Homo sapiens: one gene and its partners. The protein of the gene in region 1 interacts with the protein of each later gene in a pairwise test. Each region holds a gene or a part of one and is shown in the gene's direction. Other genes may lie near its edges.

The links.
Region 2: the proteins of TEK (region 1) and PTPRR interact in a two-hybrid assay, tested with the Homo sapiens proteins (one study listed by BioGRID and IntAct).
Region 3: the proteins of TEK (region 1) and ILKAP interact in a two-hybrid assay, tested with the Homo sapiens proteins (one study listed by BioGRID and IntAct).
Region 4: the proteins of TEK (region 1) and STYX interact in a two-hybrid assay, tested with the Homo sapiens proteins (one study listed by BioGRID and IntAct).

What each region holds. Positions count from the first base shown.
Region 1 is NC_000009.12:27,196,197-27,203,225, forward strand, and holds part of TEK (angiopoietin-1 receptor isoform 1 precursor), read left to right. Parts: intron 1-1,118; coding exon 1,119-1,403; intron 1,404-6,623; coding exon 6,624-6,923; intron 6,924-7,029. UniProt on the Homo sapiens protein: Tyrosine-protein kinase that acts as a cell-surface receptor for ANGPT1, ANGPT2 and ANGPT4 and regulates angiogenesis, endothelial cell survival, proliferation, migration, adhesion and cell spreading, reorganization of the actin cytoskeleton, but also maintenance of vascular quiescence.
Region 2 is NC_000012.12:70,889,712-70,896,740, reverse strand, and holds part of PTPRR (receptor-type tyrosine-protein phosphatase R isoform 1 precursor), read left to right. Parts: intron 1-3,763; coding exon 3,764-4,062; intron 4,063-7,029. UniProt on the Homo sapiens protein: Sequesters mitogen-activated protein kinases (MAPKs) such as MAPK1, MAPK3 and MAPK14 in the cytoplasm in an inactive form.
Region 3 is NC_000002.12:238,193,673-238,200,701, reverse strand, and holds part of ILKAP (integrin-linked kinase-associated serine/threonine phosphatase 2C), read left to right. Parts: intron 1-5,831; coding exon 5,832-5,897; exon of another isoform or gene 5,898-5,920; intron 5,921-6,370; coding exon 6,371-6,427; intron 6,428-7,029. UniProt on the Homo sapiens protein: Protein phosphatase that may play a role in regulation of cell cycle progression via dephosphorylation of its substrates whose appropriate phosphorylation states might be crucial for cell proliferation.
Region 4 is NC_000014.9:52,754,164-52,761,192, forward strand, and holds part of STYX (serine/threonine/tyrosine-interacting protein), read left to right. Parts: intron 1-2,387; coding exon 2,388-2,448; intron 2,449-3,155; coding exon 3,156-3,192; intron 3,193-3,579; coding exon 3,580-3,619; intron 3,620-3,710; coding exon 3,711-3,761; intron 3,762-5,518; coding exon 5,519-5,591; intron 5,592-7,029. UniProt on the Homo sapiens protein: Catalytically inactive phosphatase. Acts as a nuclear anchor for MAPK1/MAPK3 (ERK1/ERK2). Modulates cell-fate decisions and cell migration by spatiotemporal regulation of MAPK1/MAPK3 (ERK1/ERK2).

The sequences.
Region 1 (7,029 bases):
ACATAACTTTTAGCATGCCTACATGTACTTGAAGTCTCTTTATTGGGCTTTCATACTTATCCTAGTTATCTATTTTTCCACTGAATGGCTATATCATAATTTATTAAAGCAGTTTCCTATTTTGAGTGTTTAGGTTTCTTCCAATTGTTTGCTGTTATAAATAATGTAATGAATCATTTTGGTAGGGAAAAAAGTATCATATGGGCCACTTGCTTGTGTTTCTTTGATAGCTTATGAGGTGGTATCTTATTCTAGAAGCCAAGGTTACTCTTAAAAGGTGCCCTTTAGCGCTGTCATTGACTCCACCCTTGTATTAGTCTGTACTTGCATTGCTATAAAGAAATACCTGACACTGGGTAATTTGGAAGAAAAGAGGTTTGGCTTTTTACCAAGCCAAACAGTAAAAACAGTAACCATTGGCTCATGGTTCTGCATGCCGTATAGGAAGCATCTGCTTTTGGGGAGGCCTGAGGGAGCTTTTACTCATGGCAGAAGGCAAAGTGGGAGCAGGCACTTTGCATGGTGAAAGCAGGAGCAGAAGAGTGAGGGGGGGCGGTGCTATACACTTTTTTTTTTTTTTTTTTTTTTTACTGTTTCATAATTTATTTATTTTTCCATGGAAATTATTTAACATTTTATTTTCTGACAAAGCTCCTGTTTATTTTATTTTTTATTTTTTATTATACTTTAAGTTTTAGGGTACATGTGCACAACGTGCAGGTTAGTTACATATGTATACACGTGCCATGTTGGTGTGCTGCACCCATTAACTCGTCATTTAACTTTAGGTATATCTCCTAATGCTATCCCTCCCCCCTCCCCCGGCAATTGAACAATGAGAACATATGGAAACAGGAAGGGGAACATCACACACTGGGGCCTGTTATATACTTTCAAATGACCAGATTTCATCAGAACTCACTCGGTATCAGGAGGACAGCACCAAGGGGGATGGTACTAAACCATTCATGGGAAGTCACACTCATCAACCAATCACCTCCCACCAGGCCCCACCTCCAACACTGGGGATTACATTTCAGTATGAGATTTGGGTGGGGACACTAATCCAAACTATATCAGCCATATATAAAAATAATGATTTTTCTGGATTCTCCTAGGACTCCCTCCTCCAAGAGGTCTAAATCTCCTGCCTAAAAGTCAGACCACTCTAAATTTGACCTGGCAACCAATATTTCCAAGCTCGGAAGATGACTTTTATGTTGAAGTGGAGAGAAGGTCTGTGCAAAAAAGTGATCAGCAGAATATTAAAGTTCCAGGCAACTTGACTTCGGTGCTACTTAACAACTTACATCCCAGGGAGCAGTACGTGGTCCGAGCTAGAGTCAACACCAAGGCCCAGGGGGAATGGAGTGAAGATCTCACTGCTTGGACCCTTAGTGACAGTAAGTAATTCATGCTGCTCCAGCCTCATCTGAGCAATAAGGGGCTACCGCCATGCAGACTTAGCTAACATCACTGCAGGACTATTGGAAATTATGAAAGAAAGTTAGTTGTGAGAGAAGGCTAATTAGTGCCCCCCACCTAATCATTTTAATAACTTGCAATATATAACATATATTTGGATTTGCAATAATTCAGGCAGGTCTGTGCTAAAATTTACCTTCCCTTGGTGTGCAGTTGTTTATTTAGTAAATTAGTAACAAGAAGTTTTTCTAGGGCTTGTTGAACCATTTATGGGGTAGTTTTGAAGAATTATCATATATCTACATGTACACAGATGTCAGTTAATTCCAGATGGGTCTTACCTAACCATAAAAACCAAATAACTTTGCTTGAAACCCCTTGAAAACAGGTAATTTTAAAAGTTAAAAGATTTATCTAGGAGTAATAAAATCACTTTTTTTTTCCAAAGTATTTTGCATTTCAGGCTTCTCAATTTCAGATTGGTCATTTAAAATTAATGGGAATTTCTTGGGTTTCTTTGTAGTATTGAAAGTCTATTCATTACTAAACTAAGCAGAGAGTTTTATTTTGATTCACTGAAATTAGAACTGTGTGCATTTGGAACCCTTGGAAAGGTAAACTATTTCTTGGCCACACACAACTACCACTGAAGTCAGGATCATGTGGTCTATGGCCTTACCACCCTGAACACACTGGATCTCATTGATCCTGGAAGCTAAGCAGGGTCAGGCCTGGATGGGAGATTATGTGGTCCCTTGCCACCTCCCAGAGTCTGAGGCTGTCTTTGCAGCTGGTTCTCCACTTCCTCAGGAACAGGTGTGGAAGCTGGCTCAGTGTTTCTTTGGCCACTCTTTTATTGCATCAGTGACTTATGAAAGTCTGAATTGTTTTGTCAGTGTTTAGGAATTCTTCATATATAATGTTTAATTCTGTGAAATTTCCAAGGTGCAGAATCATGCTAACAGTAACACAACGAACAATCACATTCCTCCCATCCAGAATTAACAACTGTTAACATTTTGTCATATTTGCTTTCAGCATTTGTTGTTGACTTATGTAATAACCCACTACAGGTGTATCAGTATCTCCTGCAACTGTTATCCCTATCTATTTCTATTCCCCTCTCCCAAGAGACAACCAAAATTATGAGTTTGTTAAGTATATTTTAATTTAATGTTGTATGTATATATTTTTTGAGACAAGGTCTTGCTCTGTTGCCCAGGCTGGTGAGCAGTGGTGCCATTATGGCTTCTGCAGCCTTGGCTTCCTGGGCCCAAGCAATCCTCCCACCTCAGCCTCCTGAGTAGCTGGGACCACAGGCACACGCCACCACACCTGACTTTTTTTAAAAATTTTTTTGTAGAGATGGGATCTCCCTATGTTGCCCAGGCTGGTCTGGAACTCCTGGGCTCAAGCAATCCTCCCGCCTTCGCCTCCCAAAGTGCTGGAATTACAGGCATGAGCCACTGTGCCAAGCCCAATGTTCTATAATTTTAATATCTCTGAAAGTATACACATGCATACATATCATTCTTCATTTTTTGAATGGACATTATGAATTTTATCGATCCATGTTTATTTAGCTTTGATGCATGTAATTTTAACTTCTGTATAATATTCTATCTTATGAATGTATCTTGTCATTCATCCTCTCCCTTTTAGAGGGAGATGTAGGTTTTTTCATTTTTTACTATCATGAACAAAATGCAATGCCCATTCTTATGCATGTCTCCATGTGCATAGACAGGTGTGAGAGTTTTTCTAGGAACAAGTCCGGTGGTGGAACTCATGGGCTATTTCCCTCTAAAGTGGTTAGTCAGTGTGTACTATGTTCAGGAGTGTATGACAGTGCCATTTTCCTTATACCCATCTCTATGTCTATATCCTTTCCCTATATCACTCGATAGTGTCACACCTTTTTACTTTGCGTATCTCAAAAGCAAAATATGGTGCCTCATTGTTAATTTCAATTTTGATTTCCTTGATAGCTAGCAAAGGTGAGCATCTTTTTATGTTAATTGTCCTCTTTTTTGATATACTTATTGATATACTGGATGTCCTCTTTTTTGATATACTTATTGATATCCTTTGCTCATTTGGAATAGGTTGTCTTTCTTACTGATTTGTAAAAATTATTTGTGTAATCTAAATACTTTGTTATGTGTATTGCAAATATGTTCTCCTAATCCCTTTATTGTAACCTTGTTTGTGGTGGCTTTTAACCCACAGACACTTGACATTTTGATGCAGCTGGACCTGTCAGTATTTGCCTGTGTGATTTATACTTTTTGCATTTTGGAATTATTCCCTATCCCAAGGTCATAAACATATTCTCTGTGTTTTTCCTAGTAGTTCTAGTGTTGTTTTGTGTATTTAGGTCTTTAAGATATAAAAATGTTATTTTGGGGTGCAGTATATTTTAATATTTTTATTTTAATCTTATTTATTCACATATGGCATGTCAGTGGTCCCAATGCCACGTATTGAGTAGTCCCCATGGTGAGTTGTGATGATTTCTGTATCATATGCCAGGTTCTCATATTCATTTTGCATCTATTTCTGGATGTTCTGTTCCCTTCCATTGATCTGTTTGTTCCTGTACCATTTCCAGCATATTAACTATAAACTTGTGAAATGTCAGTAACTATGGGATGAATCACTATTTCCTATTTCAAAATTATCTGAGGTGCTCACTCACCTAAACTACATAAGTTTCATCCTCATTAGAATGATACACTCTCAAAATCACACTATCATTATCATATTTATAGGATTAAACAAAAACTAGTTAATAGTCACTGGGAGTCGACTTGCCTTGGATGATTGTATGAAGTTTGATGGAGGGTCAATGCTGGTGGTGGTAGTAGGGATGTGAGATTGGCAGGGTAGGAGTTGATCCCTATAGGGTCAGGAAATCCGAGGAAGGAGGATGTGAATGAGAACATCTCATTTTTACCTGAAAATATTTGTTAATATGCTGTGTTGTCATTGATCATGTATGTTCATAAGTAAAATTAATACTTCCAGTTATAAAGTTTGTGTTGGTTTCCAGCCTAGCAATTACATCTGGTCCAGGGGTAAGAAGTGGAGTGAATTAGATTTGGCGTATCACCCCAATCATATGTTAAAAATAATATATGTGTGTTATGTTTTCCTGTTGGAAAACATTTACATGGGGAGTATTTGACCCTTACAATGACTTTTTGAGGAAAGTAGAGTAAGAATGATTATCACAGTTAACAGATGAGGAACCTGAGGCACAGAGGAGGGTAAGTGACTTGCCCAAAATTATGGAACTAGTACGGCATGGGGATTAGGATTCTAATCCACATTTTAGTTCTATTTTTCCCCCCACCATGCTACAAATGTCTTGCACTTGTCTCTTTGGATGGGCGACCCACTGCTTCAAAGCAACTATGCTTCTAGAGGTTCTTTAAGTAGTGATATCCCGTTTCTAAATTGTTTAAGGTCTGATTAGTGTTTCCTAAAGCATTTTAGAATCTATTGTAGAGTCACCCAGAGAACCTGCTAAAATGTAGATTGCTGGGTCCAGACCCGCTGAATTTAAATCAAAGGTTTATTGAGCTATCCCTAAGAATGACTCCTTTCAGGCATAAAATGGTAAGTTGGTAGATGCAAATTTATGATTTTTAGTTGGCACAAAAATTATATTCATTATTTTTCTAACAAGCTTCTAAAAGACACTGCTGCTTTTTGTGACAGGCTTAGAAGACCACTGGTTTATGAAGTTGAATTTTTTGAGCCACAACTATACAAATATTAACTATGTGATCATAGTAATCTGAAAATGTTGGTATTTCTATTACTCCTTCAATCTCATGTGGGAAGAAAGGCTATTGTATATTTTTATAAAAATATACAAAAGACTTGGTACTGGATGTAAAGAAAGTTAAGACATACTGTTGATTAATTGTGATTTTTGGATACTGTACCATCTGCTAGACATAGAACATAACAATCAGATTTGGAAGGTTCTAAATCCAATACCTAATTCTCATAAATTGCCACAGTCCCCTAAAGAGTAACAAGGGGGAGTCAACATAATGAAAAGAAGAAATTTAAAATAGAAAGGATGTACCTTGAGATACTTCTCAAAGGTTCTAAATTGTTTATAAGCAGTAACTTTCATGTGGAAAAACAATGGTGTATGGAATGAAACAGCCTATGTCTACTATTCGCCTACTGGGACAAGTACAAACCCCTTAAACTTTTGAAGTCTCAGTTTTCTCATCTCTAAAATGTGGATCATAAAAAATCTCAGTACTGTGTGGTTATACAAGTCAAGAGAGTGTCTGCATGTGGAAGCACATTGTAAATAGCCTCATAAATGTAAGGTACAGTTACTATTAAGGACAAGAGCTCGAATCCATTCTTTTCCTGGATCAAATAGGCTTAGCCTTTATTGGATCACGAACTTCCCTTCTAGCCTGTGCCCTTTAGAGTTTGAGTGAGAATGTAGTGATGCTGCGGTGCCTGTCATCTTCACATGTGGAAAACCTCAAGGCATCTCTTTCTCATCCTGCCCGTGTCCCTGAATGGAATGTGATTCCACTTTTCCCCAAATCCCTATAATACTTTGTCTACTAAAAGTTATTAGCACATTTTCTCATGTATACACTGACCTGCCTGCTGCTCCATAAATTGAGGGCAAGGACTGACCACATGACACTAAGACTATGGACTACAGAGCCAGACTGCCAGGAGTTGAATCTTGTTTCTTCTACTTAACAGTAGTGTCACCATGGCTAAGTCACTTAATCTCTCCAGACCTCAGCACTTACAGAAAGATTGCTATGAAGAGGAAGTGAGTTAATATATACAAGAGACTAGATCAATGCCTGCCATATTGTAAGCACTATATAAATGCCAGCCCTCAGAAGCTTTCCATTCTTCCCAGCATCAAGAATAGTAAGTACAGGTTTGTGGAATAACAGAATTTCTAAGGCCTTCATTTAGTGTCAAGATGACAGATAGATGATATGTGTTGCCATTTCTCTGTCTGTGCCACTCTTTCAAGTCTGCGTGGAGTCCAGTAGCCACTACCAATTGATTGGGGTACCATATGAGAAAACATTTGTTTGCCTTATATGAGCTGACATGAACTCTATCTCAAAAGCATAATGATCTAGGCCATGGTAGTATATCTTAAGTGAATCTTTTTTCTTTTTAATTTCTAGTTCTTCCTCCTCAACCAGAAAACATCAAGATTTCCAACATTACACACTCCTCAGCTGTGATTTCTTGGACAATATTGGATGGCTATTCTATTTCTTCTATTACTATCCGTTACAAGGTTCAAGGCAAGAATGAAGACCAGCACGTTGATGTGAAGATAAAGAATGCCACCATCACTCAGTATCAGCTCAAGGGCCTAGAGCCTGAAACAGCATACCAGGTGGACATTTTTGCAGAGAACAACATAGGGTCAAGCAACCCAGCCTTTTCTCATGAACTGGTGACCCTCCCAGAATCTCAAGGTTGGTTGAATGGACAAGTATTTACATAGGATTACCGTGCAGCCCTATAGGCAGCTGGTTTATCAGGACAGGCCTGTGAGATGAAAGCCTATGAAAAGTCGGTGGT
Region 2 (7,029 bases), on another chromosome or scaffold:
AACCGTAAAAACCCTAGAAGAAAACCTAGGCAATACCATTCAGGATATGTTATATTTTTATTTTAGTTCAGTTCAAAATATGTTCTAATTTGTCTTGTGACTTTCTCTTTGGCCCATGGATATTTAGAAATGTGTTTTTTTAATTTCCAAATTTTGGAAATATTCTTCTTTTCTTTCTGTTACTGATTCCTAGTTTAATTCCTTCATGGTCAAAGAGTATACCTTGTATAATTTCAGTTTTCAACATGTGTTATTTTATGGCCCAGTATATGATCTGTCTAGATGAATACCCCATAAGAACGTGAAAAGATTGTGTATTCTGGTGTTTTGGGTTGTGTGTTCTATAAACACCTATTAAATCCAGTTGGTTGATGGTGGTGTTCTTTTACAACCTTGCCTTTGCTTCTTTTCTTTCTCCTCAATCTACTTACTATTGAGAGGGAACAGTTAAAATCTTCAATGATAATTGTGAATTTTCCCATTTCTCCTTTCATTTTTGTCAGCTTTGCTCCATGAATTTTAAGCTCATTTTTGATGCATATATATTTAGGAATATTATGTATTCTTATGTACATTGCATCATATGTCCATCATTATGTAATGTCCCTCTTTATCCTTGGGAATTTCTTTGTGCTGAATTGATATTAATATAGTCACTCCAGGTTTCTTTTGATTAGGTTTTCATGATATGTTGCTTTTCACTCTTTCACTTTAAATGTGTCCATATCATTATATTTGAAGTGAGTTTCTTGCGCTTCTACACCTGCATCTGAGTCCAGGGTCAGGTATTGATAGGAGAGAGAGGGAAAAGAGCTATGATTGTTGGCTGCTTTAGAATTACGGCTTCACTAATAGATAACTTGGCTTCTCAGTCTTCACTTTTCCAAAATTTTTACTTGAGTATATTCATAAAGCTGAAGTGAAGGAGGAAATAGGTAGCATTTGAGGATAGAAAATACAAAACCAATTCCAGACATTAGGTCAGTGGTCCTCAAACATCAGAGTTTGAACATAAGAATTCTATTATAAATCCAGATTCCTAGGCTACATCTATAGAGATTATGCTTTGGTAGTTCTAGTCTGGGGTCTAAGAAACTGTATCATCATGTCCCGGGTAGCTCTGATACAGAGAACCTAAGGACAGCACTATGAAATTTTTTTTCTTACCTAATGATTGTGGTAGGACACCTAATATTACACTGCTATCTTAGAACTCATTACTCAGGAACAAGGCAGGACTAAGTTCATTCACACAGACAAGTGGATAAGGTTGGAAAATTTTCATTGTGTTTCAATTGCGCTTCAACTTAGATTTTGTCCCTTTCTCGGTAGGCCAATTTTAGCATGCATTTATTAACTGGACTTTTCTATTTAGATAAAGTGGCTCTGAAAAGACTTGGTGTGATTGATAATATATAAAAAGAAAGATTGAAGATATTTGTGTAATTTACTCAGTTTGTCAGTTATTTCTCCTCTTTTAAGATATCTACTTTCCCCAATCTTCTAAGCTGCTTTTTTCTTTTTATTTACTATTTATAGAGAATCCAGAGTAGAGGAATTGCTAGTTTTTACAGGCTTTGCTTTCCATCAAGCCTTGTGTGACCAACATATACGTCTTACATCTTCAGCAACTCTGTTTCACCCGTATCCCTTCAACTTTCATGTGGGGTTATAAAGATGGGTTATTTTCTTAGCCCAAGTGCTTTATTCCACGATATAATAGTATGAGAATCATCTTCTGTTACCAGTAGCTTTATCTTTTTGGACCACTTGAATTATATTTTATGTGGATCCTGAAATAGTAATGGAAACTAATCATCATGTCTTCAGTTCCGAGCATGCTAAATTGACCATAACTTTTTTAAAACAATCAAGCCACCCATAGTTTGCCAAAGATGATGATTGGACAATGATGACCCTTAAATAATTGTACATTTTATTTCTCCATATTAAATGAGTTCCTCGGATTTGGAAATGAAACTCTCATTAAGAACATATGTAGTATAATGGAATTCAGAACAGGATATCTCAATGTTGTTGTTCTTACCACTGTTTTATCAATGGAAAATGGTGCCAAAATGTTTTAGATGTATATGAACTTTCTGACCACAAGGTGTGTATTTATTATTTTACTAAAAATAATTTACTAAATAATATTGTAGTGTCCTAGAAGAGTTTCTACATTTCTGAAAGGAGAGTAATTTTCTTCTTTCCCTCTGAAAAACTATCTGATATCACTACAATGAAGTGATTCCTTTGGGGTTAAGAAATAAAATAATATACTACTTTCATCCTGGTTTACTTTTCTAATACCACTGATGTAGAGGTGATTCTGTGCTTTGGGAAAGGTATATTGTATGCATAAATGAACGTGGGTCTCTCACCTAAGAGAAAATAGAGAAATTTAAATGCCCAGTAGCATGAGTACTAGATCTGCCATGATAATTCTATTGAATTTGGGCATGTAAATAGCTGAAATTTGCAAGAAAAACAAAATAAAGTACAGACGCTTGCATGATTTGGGAAGTAAAAGATAAAAATAGTAGGAGATTGGAGAAGAATTCTTGTAAAAAGAGGTAAGTAATTTTCTAAGGACAGCACTTGTTACCACAAGCATTTCCAGTGAAAATCTGGGGTACCATTGCTAGGGACTATGTTATAAAACAGATCTCATGTTTGCTTTTCTAACTGGTATTTGACCTAGTAATATTCTTTTTGATTCATATGTATTATCTGTTTCCTCCTGTGGCCAGTAGCAAACAGGAGAAGCCATTATTCAATGCAATGAATATTTATCTAACAGAAGAAATAAAGATGAATGTATTTGTTACTAAATAAATTCAATTGCTCTAACAAAGATACTTAAAATAATAGCAGGTAAAACAATAGAATATTGTTTTTCTCTCTAAAAATCAGAGTGGGAACTGTGAGGTTGGTATGGTAGTTTCACTTTCATCAGGGATCAGAATATTTTGTCTTAGTGCTCTACCATCTTTGACACATGGTTTCTACCTCATGCTCCTACCAGACTCTCTGCATTTCAGCCAGCACAAAAGAGGAAATGTAGAAAGGAAGGCCATATCACATCTCTGCTAACATCTGTTTACTCACATTCCAATAGCTATAACTTGATCAAATGGCAATGCTTAGTTGCAGGGAAGACTGAGAGAAATGTAGTCTCTATCTAGATGGCCATATTACTTACACAAGTAAGGAGACGATGGATATTGTTTGGACTACTGAAAGTTGCTACCACAATAAGTACACTCAGATTTCTTACCTCAGAGAGCTTAAATACTCTGTAAGCGTGAAGAAAACTGTTCATTGTAATACAAGCAATAAGTATGAAATAAGAATTGTAGGAAATGCTTATATTTAAGGAAAGCTTAAATATGATAAAAATATTTATAATTTCAGCAGCAGATAGGACATCCAGGAATAGAAGCCCAAGTAGGTATTGAAACTATGGGTGTAGATAAAGGAGGAAATTTCTTAGTAAAAGTGGCATCAGAATATCTGAAAAATAGAACTTTTTCAAAGTACGCCCACTTTTATCCACCTAAAGTCTTTGAGAGGCCTTCATACCACCAGGTGTATACTATTTGTTGAGGATCATGAAGCAGACAAAGAAATATGGAGACTAACCTAAATCCTTCACAAGTCTTAAAGCCTCTCAAGAAAGGGTAATCCTCTTCATCAGATATATCTACCTCTCTTACTGAATAGGGTCTTTGATATTGTTTCTGCTTCTTCCCTCTTTCAGGGTGCTTTTCAGGAAACAATGATCATTTTTTGGCAATTAATCAGAAGAAGAGTGGGAAGCCGGTATTCATTTATAAGCATTCACAAGACATTGAGAAGAGCCTGGATATAGCCCCACAAAAAATCTACAGACATAGCTACCATTCCTCTTCCGAAGCTCAAGTAAGCAAACGCCACCAGATTGTCAATTCAGCATTTCCTAGACCCGCATATGACCCGTCTCTCAATCTGCTGGCCATGGATGGTCAAGATCTTGAAGTGGAAAATCTCCCAATCCCAGCAGCAAATGTAATTGTGGTGGTAAGTAGTATGTTAAACTGATGCTGAGGCTGATGTTGATTCTTTCCTGTCATTGATGCTTGAAAAAAGAAAAACACTGATTGTGAATAGTTATCAATGAATCCCAACGGGTATGTACCACAGCACTTATTCTGTGGTACTTCTAATTTCTTACTTGACTGTTGTCTGTTTTCTTCCTCTTACGAAATCAGAAAACTTGTCTGTATCCTCCGCTCATAGCAGAATGCATGGTACATGGTAGATGCTTAATAAATATTTGAATAAAAGATTACTTTAGGAAGGCCTTACAATTATAGTTGATTATATCTTGTACTGAGCCTCCTACCTTCTGTGAGAATCTGTTTTAAGCAGATAGGCCTTAGTCTCAGCCTGTGTAAATAAATAATACTTATTGAAGATCCTCTGGTCACTTGACTCAAATTACAATAAATAAGACAACTGAAAGGGGAGGTGTGGTAGAGGGAGAGTAGTTTTCTGTCACTGGAGCAAATAAAATGAGTTGGGAGTAATTGATAGATAACATTTTTGATATTACTGAATAATAACCATTCTTTATTAATAAAAGTGATACAATGATCCCATTGCTTATGTTCTTAAAGTTCCCTTGCTTGTATAACCCAGGTCAGAGGTTTCCAAATTGTGGAGGTTATCATAGTTTAAATACATACTGAGGTTGACACCCTATTTGAACTACAGTCACTCTCTGGTTTAACATCATTATAGAAGGATCCACATTGAAACTACAAATCAGTAGTTAAATGGTTGTTATTGCATCTCTGCTCCAAAATATAATCAAATGAGTTGATTTGTGTGGCCAAGATAATTCAATGAAACCATGTTTGCATTTTGGCAACTCCTCTATGCACCAAATGTAATTAAATCTAACAAGCTTCTTTTTTTTCTTTATTTTTTTAACCTACTACATATAGTATACTTTACTTAATATTGAGAATCAAAGTTCCATTCGTCAATGTTTTCAGCTAGCATACACTCAGTATTTATTATGATCTAGTTTCCCCTTGGGATATCTGGAAACAGAGACAAATGAAATACAGTCTCTTGTTTTGCTTGGAAAATGTCCAGAGGGAAATATCAATAATTCAATAAAAATCATAAGCTAAGAACACAAGATGAACTCTTGTTAAGAGAAAATATGTGGGTCACTTGGCATCCTGAAATACTTGAACAAGTTTTCTGCATTTACATGAGTAGCAGATGTTCTGAAGGTGAAAGTCATGTACTCTGTCTATTCAGTGAAGATAAATGATGTTAATGATGTCTCTGTATCTGGAGATGCTCCTGTTAATGCTAGGGCTCATGGGAGATATTTCCTTAGTGACCATCATATACCCATAGTCATCAACTCTTAAAGTCACTGTGAATTACAGTTCAAGAGGCTTGTTCTATCTTGTAATGTCATGTACTGTCTAGTTAATTTAATATCATGGACAATAAAAGGCACCAATGAGGAATTCTGGCAGGTCATTTCACTTTCAGCTTATTTGTGGTTTGGAGATTGATGAAGAAGCTGTGCTTTTCCTTTGGGGTGATGATTACATAGAGGCAATAGGCAATTTTGCTGCATTAGCTTTCCCTAGCCTCTGACCATGCTGTGGCTTTGGTAGCTGGCAACACCAATTGCCAGTCCTAATGTTTCCTGCAATCCACTTAGATTACTTATGTGCATGATGATTTAGCAGCAAAACTGGGGAGGCAGGGTTATTTTTTAAATAAATCAATAATGTTTAGCTTCCTCAAAAAGCAAAGGGGTGATGCAATTAAATGTCAGCTGATTTGAAGACCCATTCCATACAGAAAATGGATGTATGGATGGGGCATACAGGAAGCAAGGGATATATTCTGGGGCAGCATAATGACTTTAATGGAATAATTGATGTGTGTTTGTGCTTATCATATGTACATGAGTATAAAACATATACATCAATGCAGACCTTCTTGTTTGAGGGATATTGCAGTGGTACTAAGAATTATTTTGAGACTTAATTTATACTCAAATAGACCATGTTCTGACTATCAGTGTCTTGAACTGGAGAAATTATAGGCATTTTTTTTCCAGCCAGGGTAAAAAGCTACACTCAACCTCTAAACTTTATATGTAACTTCTAAGACTTCCTAGCTCAGAAGGAAGGATCAAGCATTTTTCCTCCAATACTTTTTTCTTTCTTGTTTCAACTATCATTGGCAATGAGTTTTAGAATGCTACCTTTAAAAAGGGCATGAAAGTTGTGTCTCTCCTCCCTTCCTGATTCCCAATTGCCACCGCAAAGCATTTCATAAGAGCATTTATCCACAAATGAATTTTTTCCCTCTTTCTTCTTTTTATTAGTAATCAGGAAAATTTATAGTTTATTTGTTACAAGGAGAGTACAACACAATTAGAATGTTTATCCCAAATAATGCTAACTATGTTCCGGAACTCAATTAAGAAGCTGTTATTAGGATTTCTGTGCAAGTACAATGTAGAGAAGATATTGAATGCCTCAAGGTCAGTACTATGGTAAGAGGAAAAAAATACCGCTTTAGATGAAAGTATGCTGTAAAATCCATAGCTCTTGTCACTGGATCCTCAGGATATTTGTCAAGACACAAGGCCACAACACCAGGAAGGAGGGAACCCAGAGGTGCAAGTGAAAATGGTGGAATGGTAGCAACTACAGGCCATTTCAGTTCAGCATAGGCTGCTGAGTGAAGAATGTTCTAGCCTGGACAGAAATCTGAGCAAACTGAGGATTAGTAAGGCTTGGGAATATAAGGGGTGGTTTTTGACATCAGTGAAACGGCATGGAAATGGGAAGATTATGATTTACTCTGTGAGATGGACTCATGGGTAAGAAAAATAAAGGAAAGGAGAAGATGGAGGAGAAGAAACAGGAAGAAGAGCAGCAGGAGAAGGAAAGGAGGCAAGGAAAGAAGGGAAAAAGAAGCGGGGGGAGAAGGGAGGAGAGG
Region 3 (7,029 bases), on another chromosome or scaffold:
TACAGGTGCGCACCACCACAGCCAGCTAATTTTTGTATGTTTTGTAGAGACAAGGCTTTGCCATGTTGCCCAGGCTGCTCTCGAACTCCTGGGGCTCAAGTGTTCTGCCCACCTTGGCCCTCCCAGAGTGCTGGGATTACAGTGGTAAGCCACTGTGCCTGGCTGAGCCATTAACAGTTGTTTAAAAGTGGAAAAACGCAGTCTTAAATGAATTATGGGAAAGCACTGAGTGTCCAAAGGGAGAATACTACACTGCTTATATCACATCAAATGTATTAATATTTTGTTTAGATCTTTTTATTTTTGTTTTAAACGTTGCATCTAATGTTCCCACCCCTAAACCTCTTAAATGTTTATAATCTAGAAAAATACATAGAATGCACTAAATATTTCAGGTATTTTGCTAAATTAGTAGTTTTCATCCAAGCCCTTAAAAGTTTTAATTGCTGAATGAATCAAGTTTTTTAAAGGAGAGATGTATATATTTTACCTAAAAAAAAGTGTTTGTTCATATCAGGCAGAAATGGAACTTTCCTATGTCATACCCATAAAAGTGCCGACCTGATGTCTTTAAGATTGGCAGCTTATATTGACAATCCATGTATGTCAGTTGAAGGTGTCATGGTTTAAAATTGCTTCGCCAGTAACTTGATTTCACTTTTATAGGGTGGTTCTTTTACTTATTTGGTTGCTACACTAGTACTTTAAAAATTGATGGTCAGTTGTTGAGGAGGAAATAAAATATTTGATGGCCACACCATCTTAAAAATACTTTAAAAAAATTGGAGGCTGGGCTCGATGGCGCATACTTGTAATCCCAGCGCTTTGGGGGAACAAGGCAGGAGGATGGCTTGAGGCCAGGAATTTGAGAAGAGCCTGGCACAACTTCGTGAGACCCCTGTCTCTACGATTAAAAAAAAAAAAGAAGAATATTTGAACATAAAGGTTAAGGTATTAGAGGAAAACAGATTGTAAAACTACAGGGTTGAACAAGAAAAAAGTCATAAAAAAGTGAATTTGACTATGTAAAAATTTAAAATTTCTGCAGGACAAATGATACTATAAAGGCAAAAGACAAACCGAGAAAATAATTGCAATATACATTACTAAGGGTATAAGAAAGGCTCACAGAATTGATGGGAAAAAATAAAACCCACTAGAAAAATGGTCAAAGGATGTATCCTCCCAGTTCAGAGGTAAGGAATACAAATGGCCCATCAACAGAAAGTTGCTGAGGAACTATTTACCTTTTCACCCATCAGATTAGCAACAGTTGGTAACATTGGTGAATGTGTAGCGAAGTAGACTTTCTCATAAAGTGTTTTGGGAGTGAAAATTACAACTTTTTGGGGAACAGATTTTGGCTTCTATCAGATTTAAACTAATATCCTTTGACGAGCAGTCTAGCAGATTAAGCAGGAATACATGTATCAGATTGTTGATTGTGGCGTCACTTATCATATGAAGAACTGGGAAAAGCTTGAACCCATCAGTAAGGATCTGGTCGAATGAGTGGAGATGCTTCCCATGTGTGGCTGTTGGAGAGGATGAATTAGACTTGGGTGTGTTGGCCTGGAGCATGCCTTGATGGGTTATGTGAACACTATATGTGGAGTATTGTGTAGAGTATGACTCTGTCTTCTACAAATTAAAATGCATGAGTCCATGTGCATGAGCATTAAGGAAAGTGGAAAGGATACACTAAACTCATACTGTGGTTGGGGGGTGTGGCGGAACCTGTCCCCCCTTTTTTCTGATAATACCTCTGTGGTGTTTGGAAAACACCTGGATTTATTTTATAGTTGAAAAAATTGAGGTATAAAAAACAATTTAGCCAAAATATTTTAACATCCTTTTTTAACTTTATTGGATACAGCAACCTTTAACCTGAATATGATCAACCCAAGGGTATTTTTCTCAGCATAGTATATAACTTCCAGTAGACTTAGCTCCAGAATGTAGATAACTGAGGAAAAAAAAAAGTTCTAGATGAGATTAACTATGATTAATGGACATTTTTAGTCTTGTATTCTTATTAGGGTTCTAATATTTTTAAGATTAGGGGAGGGGCCTCTTCCAGATTTTTAGGTCAGGGTCACACTTTGTCCAATGATTGCAGCCCCCAATGCTTTGAATTTCAGTTTATTCAAAATAGAATGTAAGGGCCTGGAGCAGTGGGTCACATCTGTAATCCCAGCACTTTGGGATGCTGAGGCAGGAAGATTGCTTGAGTACAGTAGTTCGTGACCAACCTGGGCAACATAGTGAGACCCCGTCTCTACAAAAAGTTAAAAAATTAGCTGGGCATGGTGGTGTATGCCTGTAGTTTCAGCTACTCGGGAATCTGACGAGGGAGGATTGCTTGAGCCCAGAAGGTTGGGGCTGCAGTGAGCTGTGATCACACCACTGCACTCCAACCTGGCTCACAGAGCGAGACTCTTGTCTCAATTTAAAAAAAAAAAAATCTAAGGTTTTGACTAATCAGTAGTTTCCTTATGTATCTATGACCTATAGATTTTTTTTTAAAGAATCCACATACAGACTTCTAAGTTAGATTCTTTTGATGATGCAAAAATTATTTCCAGAGATTTTATAAAATCTCAGGATTATCATCATAGGATTGTTGTAAGGGTAAAATGAGTTGATGTTTATGAAGTTTCTGGAAGGGTGCCCATGTATGGAGGCAGCATAGTACCTCACTAAAAGCACGGACTGCATGGCTTTGAATCCCCACTCCACTCCTTACTGGCTCTGTGATCTTGAACAGGTAATTGACCTCAGTGCCTCAGTTTTTTCATCGGTAAATAATAATAGTACCTATCTCATAAGAATTAAATGAGAAGATGTGTGGAGCTCTTAGAATAGTGCCTGACAGGCAGGCAGTATTATCATTTTTAGAAGCCATTCCCAGTTGTGGCCAGCAAAATGTAGGATGGTCTCATTGTGTTTAATTGAAATACCTCTCATAGTATTCCAGAGTGAGAAAGAAGGTGATAGGCAGTTCTCTGGGGATGGGGCTCAGTTTGGGGCACCATCTGACTGAATTGTAGCCAGAGGAGAGGCGGCCAGGCTAGTATTAATACTAAGCTGTAAGTTGCATTGTGAGGAATGCTTACAAGAACTGAAAATATATTTATTACCTGGGTAAAAGAAGACTTCCTCCCTTGTACAGTGGCAGTGGAAAGACCTGATTTAGATGGGCAAGTTAATTCAAAAGTTAAAATATGACCTGGTACAAGCGGAAGGGTTGTTTGCTCTTCATGTTGGGCTGTTACCTGTAAATGTCCCCTCCCTTGTCCTAAGACATCTGGCTCTGTGACACCACTGAATGCAGCGTGATTGTCTGGAACATCTCATGTGGTTTTTGAGTCTGTCCGGAGAACGGGCGTTGTGATTGTTAGACCCAATGTTTGGGCAAAAGTGACCTACTTCGGGATATTAGGAATTCTTGTAAGTGGATTAATACATTGAGTAATGGTTATCCTAAATACTTTTTTTGGGTGCTGGGGACAGAGTCTGGTTTTGTCCCCCAGGCTGGAGTGCAGTGGCGCTATCTCAGCTCACCGCAACCTCCGCCTCCCAGGTTCAAGCAGTTTTCCTGCTTCAGCCTCCCAAGTAGCTGGGGCTACAGGCACCCGCCACCATGCCTAGCTAATTTTTGTATTTCTGGAGAGACAGGGTTTCACCATGTTGGTCAGGCTCATCTTGAACTGCTGACCTCAGTCCTGACCTTGACCTCCCAAAGTGCTGGGATTATAGGTGTGAGCCACCACACCTGGCCATACTAAATACTTTTTAATGGCTTTCTTCTGCTTCTTGTATACTTCTAATAGAGTCTTTATGTCACTTGTAAGAAAAGTGAAAGTATTTGCAATTCCTTAATTTGTTTAGGGTCATCCTGAAGGATTAGAATACATTTTCCCATTTGTATTAGGGATATAAAGCAAAATAGTTATTTTTTGTTAACTCAGGAATTTCTTGTGTATTTTAGGTACTTCTGACGCAAAGACCCCGGGAGAAATTTCATTCCCTTAAGTTTATAAATTTTTAATTAAAGCTTTTGTTTTTAAAAGAAGAAAGTTGATACCCAGCTCATTTCTAAATGGAGGCAAAAAGATGATAGGGATGACCCTCTTGGGGGATATAAATTTATTTGTTTAGTTGAATTGGTGTTTGGCCTGGCACAATAGCTCATACCTGTAATCCCAGCACTTTGGGAGGCTGAGGCGGGTGGACCACTTGAGGCCAGGAGTTTGAGACCAACCTGGCCAACATGGTGAAACCCCGTCTCTACTAAAAATACAAAAATTAGACCAGACATGGTGGCTCACCCCTGTAATCCCAGCGCTTTGGGAGGCTGAGGCAGGCAGAACACTTGAGGTCAGGAGTTCAAGACTAGCCTGGTCAATATGGTGAGACCATGTCTCTACTAAAAATACAAAAATTATTTGGGCATGGTGGTGTGCGCCTGTGATCTCACCTACTCAGGAGGCTGGGGCAGGAGAATAGCTTGAACCCGGGAGGTGGAGGCAGTGAGCGAAGATCACATTACTGCACTCCAGCCTGGGCAACAGAGTGAGACTCAGTCTCAAAAAAAAAAAAAAAAAAAAAAAAAGTGAATTGGTTTTTAAGTGAGTACTTTTTTTTTTTTTTTTTTTGTGACAGAGTCTCACTGTGTTGCCTAGGCTGGAGTGCAGTGGCCCAATCATGGCTCACTGAAGCCTTGGCCTCCCTGGGCTCAGGTGATCCTCCCACCTCAGCCTACTGAGTAGCTTGGACTACAGGCGCCTGCCACCACACCTGGCTAATTTTTGTATTTTTTTCATAGACATTTTTTTGCCATGTTGTCCAGGCTGGTCTCGAACTCCGGGACTCAAGCAATCCTCCCACCTCAGCCTACCGAAGTGCTGGGTTTATAGGCATGAGCCACTGCGCCTGGCGTAAATGAGCACGTTTTTATACTTGAACTCTGAGGAGCAAGAGGTGGGATAGAGCTGGTGTGTTTGGTTGGTGTGTTGAACTTTGCAGGAGGTGAACGTGTATACTTTCAACTTGGATTCTTGTGTGCCAGTTCAGATATCTAATAGCTTAAACAGAATTTCAGGAAAAAGCTGGAAAATAAGGAATGGTCGTTAAATTTTATGTGGAAAAAGATAATTGGGCATAAAACATTTAAGACATACTTTTGGAGTGTAAATCTTCACATTTTTTGTTAAAAGAGTTTCGTGACTTTCTCCTGAGGCTATCTGTCTTTGGTTACCTGAAACTCCTTTATTTTCTCCATAGCTATTTATTGAATCAGACACTGTGCTGGGGCTAGGGACACCAGGTTCCAACAGATTTTCTTCCCTTGCAGAATGTTACCGAAATAGGATTTTTATAAACCTGTAGGTCTTTGAAGGCCCCTCCTCCACCCCACCCCAAATTTCTGAACGTCTATCAGGAAGTCTCAAGTATTGTTTTCCTGGTCTAGAATCAGTTTTTTTCTTCCCAGGATTCTATTTTAAAGAAAGACTTTTAAATGTTTCATGCTTTCAATAATGAAATTATCAAGAAAATACTTGTTTTCCTCAAAATATTCAGTGGCCCTGAAGATGCCTGTTAGGGCATCAATCATTGCTTTTATGTTGACTGTAACTGTTGGAAACAGATGTCCATATTAAAAAAGCTGTTAAGAAAATATGTTTTAAAAATTTGCCCAACAGGAAGGAGAAAATTAGAATCTAATAGCAAACTTGTGTCAAAGCAGGGGAGACCACATGATCTTCCTCTTTGAAAATCTGTCCTGGGTGATGACCATATGCTCTCTAAACAGGTTTTCTGTGTTTTAGGGAAAGAAGCTCAGAAAGGACCCCTGCTCTTTGATGACCTCCCTCCGGCCAGCAGTACTGACTCAGGTACAGTCTTCAGGCTCTCCCAGGTGTGTGTCAACGTCTCTACTCATCCTGGGATTGTAGTTGTCTCAATCTTTTTCCCTTTCCCCCATTTTCAACACACAGATGTTTTAGGTGTTGGACTGTCTTTAAGTTTTGAATCCATGGCATCAGGTAAGGCAGAAAAATCTGCTAGTCGCTAGCCCTGAGAAGTACTGCGAGGAAATGTGGAGCAGTTTTCTCTGGTTCATTTGAGTATTTATTTTACTACCTGAAGTACAATTTAACTTTTTAAGGCAGATTTTTATTTCCTTTGAAATAATAGGACTTTAAAATAGGTTCAAGATATTATTCATTGCAGTATGAGTTGCCACTGGATTGACGCAAAGTTTTGAGTTTATTTCAGTAACCTACATAGGTGTCCTGGTGGGATGGATTCTGAAACTTAAGTCTTACATATTTTTTGTGGGCTCACTAAGTGTTCTGCTGTGTTTCAGGATCAGGGGGACCTTTGCTTTTTGATGATCTCCCACCCGCTAGCAGTGGCGATTCAGGTAAGTGGTAGGAAAAATCCAAGGTGCTGATGGAAATAATACATAGTATTTTACTCTTATGTGAAATTTATGTATAGGTTTTAACGGGATTTTGGATGACATTAAGTCATAATACAGCATAAGGTTTACTAAAACTATAAACAGGCACATTAATTGGAAGCACAAAGATAATACTGTATCACTTTCTGGTGATATTAACTTCTTGAGGTTCAGATTGTTGGAACTGCCTTTAAGAATTAAGAGTTCACTAATTTACTCTTAACTTTGTTATTAACATTTTTTAAAAATTCAGAGTTCATTATTCCGATTTGCCTTGTTAAACAGAGTGCTTGACTCAAATGTATCGAGGCTAGTAGCATTGGCTCTACCTCCTCCTGAAAATGTTCCTTTTCATGTCCTAATTAAGTAGAAGGGAAGAATAGAGCAGATTCCTGTTGCCATTGCGGCAAAGGTATGATTCTGTCTCATGAGAACTTCTTAGGTAGAGCTCCTCTGGTTGGGGAAGGTGAGGGTTAGGAGAGGTTGGGAGATAGATGGTGTGGGGGCAGTGGGGAATGCAGGTAATCCCATTTCGTATGCAGGTATATTTTCTATATTTTAGG
Region 4 (7,029 bases), on another chromosome or scaffold:
AGGCGTGAGCCACTGCGCCCGGCCTGAATTTTTTATAATTATGAAAGAAATACTTTTTTTTTTTTCAAAGATAGGATCTTTCTCTGCTGCCCAGCCTGGATTGCATTGGCATGATTTCTGTTCATTGTAGCCTTGACCTCCCAGGCTCAAGCAATCTTCCTGCCTCAGCCTTCCAAGTAGCTGGGACTACAGGTGCACCACCGGATCGGGCTAATTTTTTTTTTTTTTTTCTAGAGATGGGGTTTTGCTGTGTTGCCCAGGCTGTTCTTGAACTCCTGAGCTTAAGCGATCTACCCACCTCAGCCTCCCAAAGTGCTGGGGTTACAGGCATGAGCCACCACACCTGGCCATGAAACACTTATTCTTTATAAGTACTTCGGAAGGTATAGAATGACACCAAGAAAAATATTTAAATCATCTACAGTTCCACAATTCAGAGAAAACACTTTTGTTAACATTTGGAATATTTCCTTTTAAATCGTTCTCTGTTGTGTATGTGTATTTACGTATATATGCATAGAATTATTAAAGAAAATGAGAATGTTGTATTTTAAAATATCAAACTATATAAGGTGAAACTAATCTTAAGAAAAAACAAAAAAGCCAAAAAATCATACTATTCATTTCTAATGTGTACAGACTTTTTGTTTTAAATTATAATGTTGTTTGTGCAGGTTCTTTATCCTAATGGAAGAACCATTTCTCCTTAAACTTTTACAATACTAGCTTCTTAGAGATTGATAGTTCTACTAGCAGTGCTTGACACTGAAAATGTTATGCGTTAAAATATTTAATTTCATTCTGAGTTAACATTTTTCCCCTGAAGCATTATTTTATGTAACTGGAATACCCAGTCACTTCAGGATACAGTCATTGTCGAAATCCTTGTAGGTTAAATATTGGATTTTCCTCAGATCCTGAGGTTCAGCTTCTGTGTTTTTTTTTGTTTGTTTTTTTGTTTTTTTTTTTTTGTTTTTGAAACAGAGTCTTGCTGTTTCACCCAGGCTGGAGTGCAGTGGCACAATTTTGGCCCACTGCAACCTCTGCCTCCCGGGTTTAAGTGATTCTCCTGCCTCAGCCTCCTGAGTAGCTGGGATTACAGGTGTGCACCACCATGCCTGGCTAATTTTTATATTTTTAGTAGAGATGGGGTTTCACCATGTTGGCCAGGATGGTCTTGAACTCCTGACCTCAGGCAATCCACCTGCCTCGGCTTCCCCAAGTGCTGGGATTACAAGCATGAGCCACCATGCTCAGCCTCAGCTTCTCTGTATTAAAGTCCTGAATTCTTTGAAGTTGTTACCACCTAAATGATCATTGAAAAACTGTATTTTTTAGTGCAAAATTGTTCTTAAAACTAATTTAATAACTTAGCTAATTGCCTATAGTTGTGTTAATAAACAGTGGTCTTAGAAACGCTTAGAAATGGAAGTTTTTTACAAAAATAAGCTAACATATTTAAAATGCCTTTTAAGTATTTTGTAAAGTGTAAAATTCAGTACAGGTGCTCTCTCAGCTAGTTTTTTTTTTTTTTTTTTTTCCCCTTTACTAAAGATGAGTTCAAACAGTGAATGTTTGACTCCTGGTTCCATAGACCATACCTTCCGTTTTTATTTGTTCGTTCTCTTAGACTTTGGACTTCCTCTGAAATGTCCTCTGTAGGTTCATGAGCAGGAGTCACAGGACCACTTAGAGAACAATCTTCTGGTCTTAGAGAAATTGGTAGAAATAAAAGAATAACATAACGATTACAGGTACTTTTGTCTTTATTTCTAGGTCCACTCTAATCTAGAGGAATGTATCTTCCTGCTTGTGATTTTTCTATTTTAACCAGATGGTTCATTATATGCAAATAAAATATGTATTTATTTTTGAGATAAGAATCTTGCTCTGTTACCCAGGCTGGAGTGCAGTGGCCCAATCACAGCTTACTATATCCTTGACTTCCAGGCTCACACAGTTCTACCTCAGCCCCCTTAGTAGCTGGGACTATAAGTGCACACCACGACACCCAGCTAATTTTTTAATATTCTGTAGAGATGGAGTCTCCCTCTGTTGCTCAGGCTGGTCTCGAATCCCTGGGCTCAAGTGATCCTCCCACCTTGGCCTCCCAAAAGAGTTTCTTTTTGCTGGGATTATAGGCATGAGCCATTGTGCCCAGCCTGATGGATTTTTTAAATACTTAAATATCAGAGATGTTAACATGGTGTTTCAGGTTTTAATGCCTTCAAGCAATGTAAAATCTACCACACAGTTCTTGGGAATATGATACTTTGAAAGTTGTTTTGCATTCTTGCCATGGTTAACAAGAAATAATGAGTTATTTTTTTAAAGTACCTTAAGTGTTTTACTTAAAGTGTGCTTATCACAAAATACTCTATTTTCAGATATTTAGTCCTGGATATTGCAGATAATCCAGTTGAAAATATAATACGTTTTTTCCCTATGGTAGGTACCAGTATTTTTTAAATATCATTTAAAATTTATTTATGATTTGACTTCTTAGTTGTGCTTTTTTTTTTTTTTTTTTTTTTTTTTTTGAGACAAGAGTTTTACTCTTGTTGCCCAGGCTGGAGTGCAATGGCGCAATCTTGGCTCACCACAACCTCTGCTTCCCGGGTTCAAGTGATTTTTCTGCCTCAGCCTCCCAAGTGGCTGGGATTACAGGCATGAGCCGCCATGCCCAGCTAATTTTGTATTTTTAGTAGAGACGGGGTTTCTCCATGTTGATCAGGCTGGTCTCAAATTCTCGACCTCAGGTGATCTGCCTGCCTCAGCCTCCCAAAGTGCTGGCATTACAGGCGTGAGCCACCGTGCCCAGCCCCTTTAATTGTGCTTGTAAAGCTTGCTACTTTTACTTTGCTATGACTGAAAATTATGTGATTGTGTTTTTAAAAGAATTATTTGTAGAAAATTTTTTATGATCTCCAGAAATTTGAGGAATCATATTGTGAATGTATTGGACTTAAATTAAATTTTGGCTTCTTTAATTTTTTTGGACTTGTAATAGTTCTATTTATAGCATTTTGGAAATTGGTGAATCAAAATAATTTTTATACATATAAATTAGGAAATTGTTTTCAATAGGTTTCATTTTGTTTCATTATATGCATTTATTTTATGCTTACATTAATCCACATGTCTTTTGCCTCCAGACTAAGGAATTTATTGATGGGAGCTTACAAATGGGAGGTAAATAACATTTCCTTTCCTTAACTAATGTTTATATTTTGATTATTTGTTAATTTTTTAGTTGGTATTTGTCTTAAATGCAGGATATGGAAGTTACAATTATATGTAGTAGCTTACTCCCAAATTTGTATTTTCCCAATTACTTGTTTCATTTGGATAGGCTTTCTGGAGTATCCCTGTAGACTGTTTTCAAATTCTCTGTGAGCTTTCAGTTTCTTTAATAAGAGTCTGCTATATTCTCTACACAGTTGATAATAACAAATTGTAAAGATTTGAAGATATCCAAGTGATTATAGTATATAAGGAGTTACTTTACTGTGGTTTCAATGTAGTTCAGCTACTGACTCAGGTGTTTTTCTATTAGAATAATGAATTCATGTTTTTCAGGAAAAGTTCTTGTGCATGGAAATGCAGGGATCTCCAGAAGGTATGAAGTTAGAAATAATCTTTCTTTCTATAACATTTAATTAATGGGCTGTATTTTCTGGTTGTTTTTAAAATTATTTTCCCCTCTTCAGTGCAGCCTTTGTTATTGCATACATTATGGAAACATTTGGAATGAAGTACAGGTAAGAAAATACCCTAAAACCTAGCCACAGTTTAAATTCTCATTAAAATGAAACTTAATGGGAATAGTTTGGAAGTTTGAAGTTCTTATTCCCCTGATTATTTTTCATGTAGTCATGTTTGATTAGGCAGGCCCTTATTCCATGATTAGTCTTAACCTAATTTATCTACTTGTATAGATATGCATAGGCTAATATGGAAATCCTATGGAAAACTACTTACCTACCACAAGGGAATTGGTTGGTATGAGTATAAAAACTCGTGACCACAAATGTTAGTGCTTGCCTTATTTAAAGGGCTAATTTATCATGTTCTCCTTTAACAATAGTTGGATGAAAAATTACCTAGGAATTGTTTGCAGCATCTATTTACAATTCAGAGTAGTCTTTCTTATCAAAAATCATCTTTTCCAAGCATTCTGTATAGATTTTTTAAAAGATAGGGGGTGGTAATGAGCTTCTTGCCCCAAGACAAAGCAAAAGCCTGGCCAGTGTACAGTATTTCCTTTCTCAGCTTTTCTTGTTCTACAAATTAGAAATCTTATAGTAATCATTGACACATCTTTCTATTTCAGTCCCCTTTTATATCTAAATTAGAATGGATAACTTTGCTTAAAAATATCTATTCTTAAAGGAATATTATTTGAATACAAATATTTATTTATTTATTTTTGAGACGGCGTCTTGCTCTATTGGCAGGCTGGAGTGCAGTGGTGCGATCTCAGCTCACTGCAACCCCCGCCTCCCAGATTCAAGCAATTCTCCTGCCTCAGCCTCCCTAGTAGCTGAGACTACAGGTGCACACCACCACGCCTGGCTAATTTTTGTATTTTTATTAGAGATGGGGTTTCACCATGTTGGCCAGGATGGTCTCGATTTCTTGACCTTGTGATCCACCTGCCTCGGCCTCCCAAGGTGCTGGTATTACAGGGGTGAGCCACTGCACCCAGCCAGAATACAAATATTTAATTGAAAAAAGATTAAACATGTATTGATGGACTTTATGTTTTATATATTGTTTTTATTATTTCGAATTTTGTCAGACCATTAATGTTGGAAATAACTTGTATTTATTGGGTCTCTGCTATGAGCTCAGTACTATTATAGGCACTTTAAGCCTCATAACAAAAGTAAATAAACCTCTTTAACCAGTGATAGTATTTTGAGCTTGAACTTGTACTATATGCACAAAATGCTTACATTTTATATATTTATTTTAGAGACAGGGTCTTCCTTTGTTTCTCAGGCTGGAGTGTAGTGGCACAATCATAGCTCACTGTAGTCTCAGACTTGAGGACTCAAGTAATCCTCCCACCTCAGCCTCTCAAGAAGCTGGGACTATACCACATCACTGTGCCTGGCTAATTTTTAAGTTTTTTGTAGAGATGGGGTCTTACTACATTGCCCAGGCTGGTCTCAAAGTCCTGGCTTCAAGCAGTCCTCCTGTGTTGGCCTCTCAAAGGATTGGGGTTACAGGCAAGAGCCACTGCACCTGGCCACTTTACACTTACCTCCTATTCATAGTAGTTCCCCAAGGTAGGTGTTATTAGACTCTTCATTTTACCAATGGACAAAATAGAGCTTAGAGAAGTTGAGCAAGCTGCCGTAAGCATATAGCTGGTGAGAAAAGGAATTGTGATATTTAATCTCATCATGCTTTTTCCATTACAACTCATTACCCCTCTCTATTGCTAAGTTGTATGATTATGATTAATTCATTAAATAATGCTATCACATTAACACTCTTTTTCTGTTTTCAGAGATGCTTTTGCTTATGTTCAAGAAAGAAGATTTTGTATTAATCCTAATGCTGGATTTGTCCATCAACTTCAGGTAACTTTTCTTCCTCTTTAAGGCAATCAGAAGTAAGATATAAAATCTTTTATACATGTAATTTAGGTGTACAATTTACTTTGTGAATACTTAAAATTGCCATAATCTGACTACTTTGATGCTTTATTCAAGTTTATATCTCTATTTAGAAGTATTTTCTTGGCTGGGTGTGGTGGCTTATACCTATAATCACAGCACTTTGGGAGAACAAGGCATTTGGATTGCTTGAGGCCAGAAGTATGAGATCAGCCTGAGCAACAAAGTGAGACCCAATCTCTAAAAAATAAAAAATTAAAAAAAAATTAGCCAGTCATGGTGGTGCATGGCTGTGGTCCCAGCTACTCAGGAGGCTGAGATGGGAGGATTGCTTGAGCCCAGGAGTTTGAGGCTACAGTGAACAGTGTGCCTTTGCACTCCAGCCTGGCCCACAGAGTGAGACCCCATCCCTAAAAAATTAAAAAAACTTTTTTTTCTTAAAGGCTGGCATTACCAAGAAAAAAGGGTTAAAGACACATTATCAAATCTAAAGTAAAATAATTGCTGTTAGAAATGTCTGATTTTTTTTTGTTGTTCATTTTGATCACACAGAGCATAAGACAGTTTTGATTCTAAGTATACTAACTATAACAGCTTTTTCTATTCTATGTTTATCTTTTCCATGTTGTTTCATATTTTGTTGATGCCTGGCAGATGCACTGACAAAGATGATAAGTCTATGAATTAACCTAATTAGACCACGTTGCTCAGTTTATTCCAAGAGGCAAAATCATAGGCTGCAGAATGTGCTCTGGCTAATTACATCCAATTATGTAGGAATAAAGCTCATGTTTCAACATCAAGAATATTTATTACAAAATATATTGTTATAGTTACCAAGGTTTAAATTTTATTTTAATATTTAATTTACTTTTAATTTTTACTACATTCAAAAGAGAAACAGTGTCATCTGTGTTCAGCCTGTTCATGTAAAATGTTTGTCTTCTAACTTTGTAAGTTTCTTTGCCTTTTACCATGTTGTAGAAAACATTGTTTTTTTTCATTTTTTTTAAACTATTTTTTAAGCTTTTCTTTTTTTTGTGGATACATAGTAGGTTAGGTATTTCGATACAGGCATGCAATGTGTAATAATCACATCATGGAAAAATAGAGTATCCATCCCCTCAATCATTTATCCTTTGTGTTACAAACAATCCAATAATGCTCTTACTTGTTTTCAAATGTGTAAAAACATTCTTTTTTAAAATTAATTTTTGTATTTGAAAGAATAGTATATACATATGTTTAAGAAGATTGGCCTGGCTCAGTGGCTCACACCTGTAATCCCAGCACTTAGGGAGGCCGAGGTGAGTGGAACACCTGAGGTCAGGAGTTCGAGACCAGCCTGGCCAACATGGGGAAACCCCATCTCTACTAAAACTACAAAATTAGCTGGATGTGG